Linked DNA regions of Homo sapiens. The protein of the gene in region 2 purifies or fractionates together with the protein of the main gene of each other region. This does not show direct contact. Each region holds a gene or a part of one and is shown on either strand. Other genes may lie near its edges.

Region 1 (3,747 bases), on a different chromosome or scaffold from region 2:
GCAGAGAATTGCTTGAACCCAGGAGGCGGAGGTTGCGGTGAGCCAAGATCGCACCACTGCACTCCAGCGTGGGTGATAGAGCGAGACTCCGTCTCAAAAAAAAAAAAAAAAAAAATTAGTTAGTATTAGTGCCTAAACAGTTGTGTGAATTTACAGCTTTCACATTGGGAAAAGTATTTGTTTTTTCCTGTAAGTTTTGGAATCAGCCTGAAAGTTTGTAACTTAAAGTATGAATTTTTCATTAATATTTTCTCAATAGCAATTTAGGGGAATTTAGAATCAGATGATGCAAATTTCATTTTCTGTATATTTGTTCTTGGTAGGACAAATATTCTTTTTAAACAGATTTATTTCATGATTACTTTTAACATGCTTTTTCTGTATTTTCCAGTTATTCTGTCATTATCGAGCTAGTTGATGACCATTTTGAAGGCTCTCTCCGCAGGCCTCTCAGTTGGAAGTCCCTGGCTGCCTTGAGCAGAGTTTCCGTTAATGTCTCTAAGGTAACACAACATCAGCTTTGCCATTGGAGTGTCACTTAAATGGTTCAGTTTTTTTTTTTTTCTTAAATGTAGTAGAATCAAAAAAGTTAGTTGTAGAAACTTCATAACATTCCTGCCAGTGACATGCTGGAAGATTTGGGGTCATTCGTACCCTTCCCTTATTGCGCTAGAAGTTGTCCTCCCCTCATGTTACATTTTATTGTCCCCTCCCTCCCAACTGCTGCTGAGCTCCAATGACGGAGCTTTGGAGTGTCCCATGGTGATCTGATCTGGGTAGGCATTGCTTCTCTTCCCAGGGGTATCGTTGCTATGTGACTTGTTTTATACTGCAATTTAACATTCACTCATACACATATTCACAAAGGAGTCAAAACATTGAAAGTTTGCAGATCTCTTAGAGAGGAAGGGACTTGATATTTGTTGCTAAGCACTTTCCCACCCTGTTGTTATCCTCATCCTGAGGATGAGAAACCAAGGTTGGAGCCGTTGAGTGGCTAATCCAAGATCACACAGCTCATGTGCATACTCGGGATCCAAACCCACAGCTCTCTGGCTCCCTGGCTTTTGTTTCACTATATCCTTCGTGTTGCCATCAGAGATAGGAGGGACTCAGCTTACACAAGGACTATCAAGAAAGAAAGCTGTGTGTGTTCTCATTACTCAGTGATTTGCTGGCTGAAAACAAATTGTAGATACCCTCTAATTTCATCCTCATGCTGCTGGAGGTGAGGTGGGGCTGAGGCCAGAGGGTCTTGCAGGGCTAGAGATGACTGCCCTTTAGAGCAGGTTAGGTTGCCTAGGCTTTAGCTTGGTCCTATAGAAAATTAGGGAGCCTATACTGTTTCTAGAATTTTTATGCCCATTTTAGGGGACTTGTAGCATATACTTAATATGTCCTCACTTAACATTGTTGATATGTTCTTGGAAACTGCAACTTTAATGTCGTATAACAAAACCGTTTTTTCTTCTCATCATTTCAAGAAAACAATGTTGAAGTTTATTTGAAGACCTGCTGTACATCTGTATTAGTCCATTCTCATGCTGCTATAAAGAAATACTTGAGACTGGGTAATTTATAATGAAAAGAGGTTTAATTGACTCACAGTTCCATGTGGCTGGGGAGGCCTCAGGAAACTTACAATCATAGTGGAAGGCACCTCTTCAGAGGGTGGCAGGAGCAAGAATGAGAGGATGAGTGAAGGAGGAAGCCCCTTATAAAACCATCACATCTCATGAGAACTCACTGTCACAAGAACAGCATGGGGACCGTCCCCCATAATCTAATCACCTCCCACGAGGTCCCTCCATGACACGTGGGGATTGTGGGAACTACAAGATGAGATTTGGGTGGGGGCACAGCCAAACCGTATCAACATCATTTCACTTAAAGTCCGTGTCCAAGAACCTATCAAGGACATTTGAGGACTTACTATATTTAGTATTCTTAATGCTGTGTTTATAATCAATGTATCTGCTTATATCTGTTGCCATGTTCAGTGATTACTAAACGGCAGGTACTTAGTCAGAACGTAAATCCCAGTTATGGTTTCCCCAGGAGGAAACTGATGTGCTCTGTGAGTTTCCACTTGGAGTGCACAGTGAGAGGGACTGGAGACCACCTGCATTTCCTGCTGATGCACCCAAATTTGTACTATTATTTTGTAGGATACAGAAGTGGTTTTTCATTTCTCAATAGGAACTTATGCTGTGCTATTTGATTAAACCCTCTACTATGACTGACAAGGAAATGGAGTCACCAGAATGTATGAAAAGGATTAAAGTTCAGGTGGGTAAACTCAGAGAAATTCATGTCATCCCAAAGATTCTGTGAATCATAGTGTATCTGGAACATGTGGTCCCAAGAAAATACATGAATACAGTTTTGCCTTGGTAACAGAGCCTTCTCAGGCAGGCTCTTAAGTCTCTCACCTTTTCCCCATTGAACCCATTGGACACGAAATCTATGCTGACTTCCTCTATTCCTTAATTCCCCACTTTATTACCTGTGATGTCCCCATCACTCAGCTGAAACTGCTCTCTTACAGGTGGCCTGTGACCCCCTGGCCAGGCCAGGACTTCTCACAGGTCTCATTCCCAGAGACCAGAGGTGTCCCTGTTGACTTGTTCCTGCTTCTGGGCTTCTGTATTGAACCAAGGCGCCTCCTGTCATCTTGGCTTGTTTCTCTCTGGTCTGGCCGAGTTGTCTAGTGTGTGTCCGTGTTTCTGCATTCCCTCCCTCTGTGTGTAGAGCCTTAACGTTGCCATTGGCTCCTCCCAACATCCAGTATGTCTTTGTTGTCGTCCTGTCTTCTTTTCACACCACCCTGCCCCTGCAGACCTGCTGGTCGGTCTCCAGGGCCCCAGCACGTCTTCCCTTCAGTTGGTCCCACTTATCTCCACTAGGCTAGTTTCTCATAAAATGCTCATCAACCTCATTTCTCCCTTCTCAGTAGCTGGCCCCGTTACAGCAATGCCATCACAGACCTAGCTCTAATGTAAAATGCTAGCTTTCATCCCGCCCACCTGTTTCTGAAATGTGCTAGTAGAATACCACAGCAGAGGCAAGCTTAGCTGTTAAAATCTTTGCCTGGTGAAAGTAGATACTGTATGCTTGTAAGGTTTATATTGTTACATTCATTTTCTCCAGATGTTTCTGTTCTAAAGGTGGGAACAGTATCATCATTATATAGACCGCCCTTTGTGAAATGTAGCTGTGGTGTCAGCTGTGGTGTCAGAATGGTCTTACATTTCTGTTTTAAGAAATGGTCTTTTTTTTTATTGGTTGTAGGAGGTGATTCTGAGTCGATGGGTTTCTTCACGAGAGAGGAGTGACCAAGACGATCTTTAACAATTCAACCTCAAATTTCTAATTTCACCAACAACTATTTATTGAGGGCTAGGTAAAAAGTTCTTTTTGTTGTAATCGTCCATTAATTCATAAGTTTTAAAGGGCATGGTGCTCCCAGCACCAGAAAACTATCAGTGTTTTTAAAGATAAATTACACAAGGGAGGAGAAAGATCCCTGTGCTAGGACTGCAGATTCTATACTTGCGTTGGCCTCTAACTCTCCAATCCAGAGCCTCCTGCCTCTGGCGTCAGTCTTTTCCCTCATCCACTCACTGGGGAGATTGGACTAGAGGAGTCCTGAGAGGACACTTCCAACAAGAGACATTTATTCTCTGATTTTACCTGAAAATGGTAGTAGTTTACATTTATACAGTACAGTTTATGAAGCACTTTCAT
Region 2 (3,747 bases):
GGATCCGAGCTCCGAGTACGTGAAGGGGCGGGCCTTCGGGCTCGGAACAAGGAGGAGCCAAAAGCTTTGGACCCGAAGGGGAACAGACGGGCTCTGGAAAGGAGGCGGGGTCTGGAGCTCGGCGTGAGGAATGAGGCGGGGTCTCCCTTCGGGTTCCTTCGGGCACAATCGGGAGCTTGAGTTCTCCGGAAGCGGGGCCACAAACTTCGGCTCACTTCGGCAATAGTCGAGAACGGAGAGCTGAGGCCACTGTGGGCGGAGCCACATGTTTCGGCTTTCTTCGGAGGTAGTCGAGTCCTTAGGGTCACTGTTCCGATGTGGGCGGGGCCACAGACTCGGCCGGATGTGGGTGGGGCCACAAGCTTCGGTTTACTTCGTAGATAGTTGGGTACAAGTGACGCTAGGATGATAGGCGGAGTCAACAGGTTCGCCAGACACCCATGAGTATTTACAAGGGGGCGGGGCGAAAGCGACTTGCCCTCAAAGGGGCGGAACCCCGAGGGCCGGCGTGCGCCTACGGGACCGGGCCAGGATGACGATCCTCAAGTTCCCAAGTAGAGGAGAGGAAGCGGCAGAGGGAGGTGCGCTCAGTGGGGCGGAGCCAAGGTGGCCCCCGCGGGAGGAGGGCGGGGCTTCGGTCCTGCGAGGGGCGGGACCTGACTTCCCGCGGCGCTGATGGGGCGGGATGACGAAGTTGACGAGGGTGTCGGCATGAGGGGGTGGAGCAAGGAGCGCGTGGCGCGGTGCGCAGTGGGTGGCTCCACCTCGACTGCGAATTACTGTTTATGAGGTGACTCGCTGGTTCTATCGGTGGACAGTGGGACATTCTGAAGGGAGGCAAGGAGGCGGACTGAGCGCTCCCAATTGGGGTGAGCCCGCCCGAGCGGAGAGTGGACGGCGGGTGTCCAGGGGGCGGGGCTTTCGGCTGTGGGGTTCGGTCGTAGGGCGGGAACTCCCCAACTGGGGTGCGCTGGCGCTCGGAGGGGGCGGGGCCACAGGCCGCGAGGCTGCCGGGAGCCGATGACGCCCGAACGCCGAACCTATTGCGTCCGGGAGGAGGCGGGGCTACGGATTCGGCCGAGCCGAGAACACCCGAACGTCAAATTGCTGGCGTTCGAGAAGGGGGCGGGGCTGCGGATTCGGTGGAGCCGAGGACGCCCGAACGCCGAACTTCCTGTGCTCGGGAGGGGGCAGGGTTTTGTACTGTGGGAGTCTGAGAGCGAGGAGGTCCGAAAGCCGAATCACAGTCGTTCGGAAAGAGGAGGAGCGAAGGCTCGAGCGTCCGGAAGAGGGTGTGGCCTCGGCGGTGCCTTAGCCTCCAGAGCTTCTGACCGCTGACGGGAACACCCGAAGGGGGACGCCCACTTTGCAAGAGGGTGGTGCCAAAATGGACCTTTGTAAGGGGGCGTGTCGCCGCGCTTGCGGAGGTTTGTTTTTCACGCTCCAAGGCGCAATGGTAGGTACGGCAGTGCGGGCACAGAGCGGGTGCCGACCGCAGGGTCACAAGGGTAGAGCGGGACCCTGGGGGCTTGGCGAGGGGAGAGGGTCGGGGGCTTGTCTCCGGCGTCTCGTCTCCGGCGGCCGCGAGGCCTGGTGGGATCGCCCGGGGGCGGGGCCTGGCGCTCGGGCCCAGCAGGTGGTGAACGGCGGCTGAGCGAGGCCCCGCCCCCTGAGGCCTAGGGGCGGGGCTTCGCCGAGACCCCGGAGGCTTTGGGTGCGCTGCAGCGGTCCGCGGCGCGCAGCTGTTTCGGTAACTGCTTTGCCTCCCGGCTCCCGCAGGAGGATGCTGGTGGTGGAGGTGGCGAACGGCCGCTCCCTGGTGTGGGGAGCCGAGGCGGTGCAGGCCCTCCGGGAGCGCCTGGGTGTGGGGGGCCGCACGGTAGGCGCCCTGCCCCGCGGGCCCCGCCAGAACTCGCGCCTGGGCCTCCCGCTGCTGCTGATGCCCGAAGAGGCGCGGCTCTTGGCCGAGATCGGCGCCGTGACTCTGGTCAGCGCCCCGCGTCCAGACTCTCGGCACCACAGCCTGGTAAGGGGGCGGGGCTCGAACTCGGGTTCGGTGGGAGCGGGACCTGGGAGTCAAGTTTCCTGGCTTCTGAAGGGACCATAAGCTTGGAGGTTCCAGCGAAGTGTGCTTCTCAGGCCCTGACATCCTTCAAGCGCCAGCAAGAGGAGAGCTTCCAGGAGCAGAGCGCCTTGGCAGCTGAGGCCCGGGAGACCCGTCGTCAGGAGCTCCTGGAGAAGATTACGGAGGGCCAGGCTGCTAAGAAGCAGAAACTAGAACAGGCTTCAGGGGCCAGCTCAAGCCAGGAGGCCGGCTCGAGCCAGGCTGCCAAAGAGGATGAGACCAGTGATGGCCAGGCTTCGGGAGAGCAGGAGGAAGCTGGTGAGCATGGGAGGTGGAGTCCAGGGACCACGGGAAGGAGAGGAGAGATCTTTTAGGAATTTTAGCTGGGAATCCAGTGCCTGGGTCTCCCTGAGGGTGAGAAGACTTTACCCCTTGAATTTACCAAACTCTTCTCTGTACTCCCCACCAGGCCCCTCGTCTTCCCAAGCAGGACCCTCAAATGGGGTAGCCCCCTTGCCCAGATCTGCTCTCCTTGTCCAGCTGGCCACTGCCAGGCCTCGACCGGTCAAGGCCAGGCCCCTGGACTGGCGTGTCCAGTCTAAAGACTGGCCCCACGCCGGCCGCCCTGCCCACGAGCTGCGCTACAGTATCTACAGAGACCTGTGGGAGCGAGGCTTCTTCCTCAGTGCGGCTGGCAAGTTCGGAGGTGACTTCCTGGTCTATCCTGGTGAGTATGGGTTGGGGCCTCTGGTTGCTGTGCCTTTCCATACGATCCCAATGTATTCTGCGTTTTTCTTTTTTTTTTTTTTTGTCTTAATAGAGGTGGGGTCTCTTGTTGCTTAGGCTGGTCCCTATTCCTGGGCTCAAGCAATCCTTCCACCTCGGCCCCCCAAAGTGCTGGAATTATAGGCCCAGCTGCATTTTTCTTTTTTGTCTCACTTTCTCTTAGCCTCTGAAATTCATAGACAGACAGGAAACATTTGGGAGCTCCCGAACTCATTGGGCAAGCAGTTTAACGACTTTTATTAAATGATTACTGTGATCCAGAAGATTCACTTAGAAGTAGTTAGACATCAGGCTGGGCGCAATGGCTCACGCCTGTAATCCCAACACTTTGGGAGGCCAAGACAGGTGGATCACCTGAGGTCAGGAGTTTGATACCAGTCTGGCCAACATGGTGAAACCCCATCTCTACTAAAAATACTAAAACTAACTGGGCGTGGTGGTGGGTGCCTGTATTTCCAGCTACTCGGGAGGCTGAAGCAGGAGAATCATGTGAACCCAGGGGGCAGAGGTTGTAGTGAGCCAAGATCGTGCCATTGCACTCCAGCCTGGGGGACAAGAGCGAGACTTTGTCTCAAAAAAAAAAAAAAAGCCTAGAAGTGGAATAGTTGTGTCCAAGAGCATCTGTTTTAGAGTATCTATAGTGATGGCTGAAATGATCTCAGATCTCCTCCCAGTGGTCGTTCCCGTGGCGTCCAGCCGTCTGCCATTGGTCACTGCTTCAGTGCCTCTCTCCTTCCCCCAGGTGACCCCCTCCGCTTCCACGCCCATTATATCGCTCAGTGCTGGGCCCCTGAGGACACCATCCCACTCCAAGACCTGGTTGCTGCTGGGCGCCTTGGAACCAGCGTCAGAAAGACCCTGCTCCTCTGTTCTCCGCAGCCTGATGGTAAGGTGGT

What was found.
Region 1: the proteins of TSEN34 (region 2) and TSEN2 purify together in Homo sapiens (affinity purification with mass spectrometry; 4 studies listed by BioGRID and IntAct, with this or other methods). This does not show direct contact.

What each region holds. Positions count from the first base shown.
Region 1 is NC_000003.12:12,529,371-12,533,117, forward strand, and holds part of TSEN2 (tRNA-splicing endonuclease subunit Sen2), read left to right. Parts: intron 1-391; coding exon 392-503; intron 504-1,484; coding exon of another isoform or gene 1,485-1,508; exon of another isoform or gene 1,509-1,792; intron 1,793-2,199; coding exon 2,200-2,289; intron 2,290-3,291; coding exon 3,292-3,351; 3' UTR 3,352-3,747.
Region 2 is NC_000019.10:54,189,582-54,193,328, forward strand, and holds the start of TSEN34 (tRNA-splicing endonuclease subunit Sen34), read left to right. Parts: upstream 1-1,726; 5' UTR 1,727-1,783; coding exon 1,784-2,026; intron 2,027-2,139; coding exon 2,140-2,383; intron 2,384-2,534; coding exon 2,535-2,792; intron 2,793-3,593; coding exon 3,594-3,747. UniProt on the Homo sapiens protein: Constitutes one of the two catalytic subunit of the tRNA-splicing endonuclease complex, a complex responsible for identification and cleavage of the splice sites in pre-tRNA. It cleaves pre-tRNA at the 5'- and 3'-splice sites to release the intron.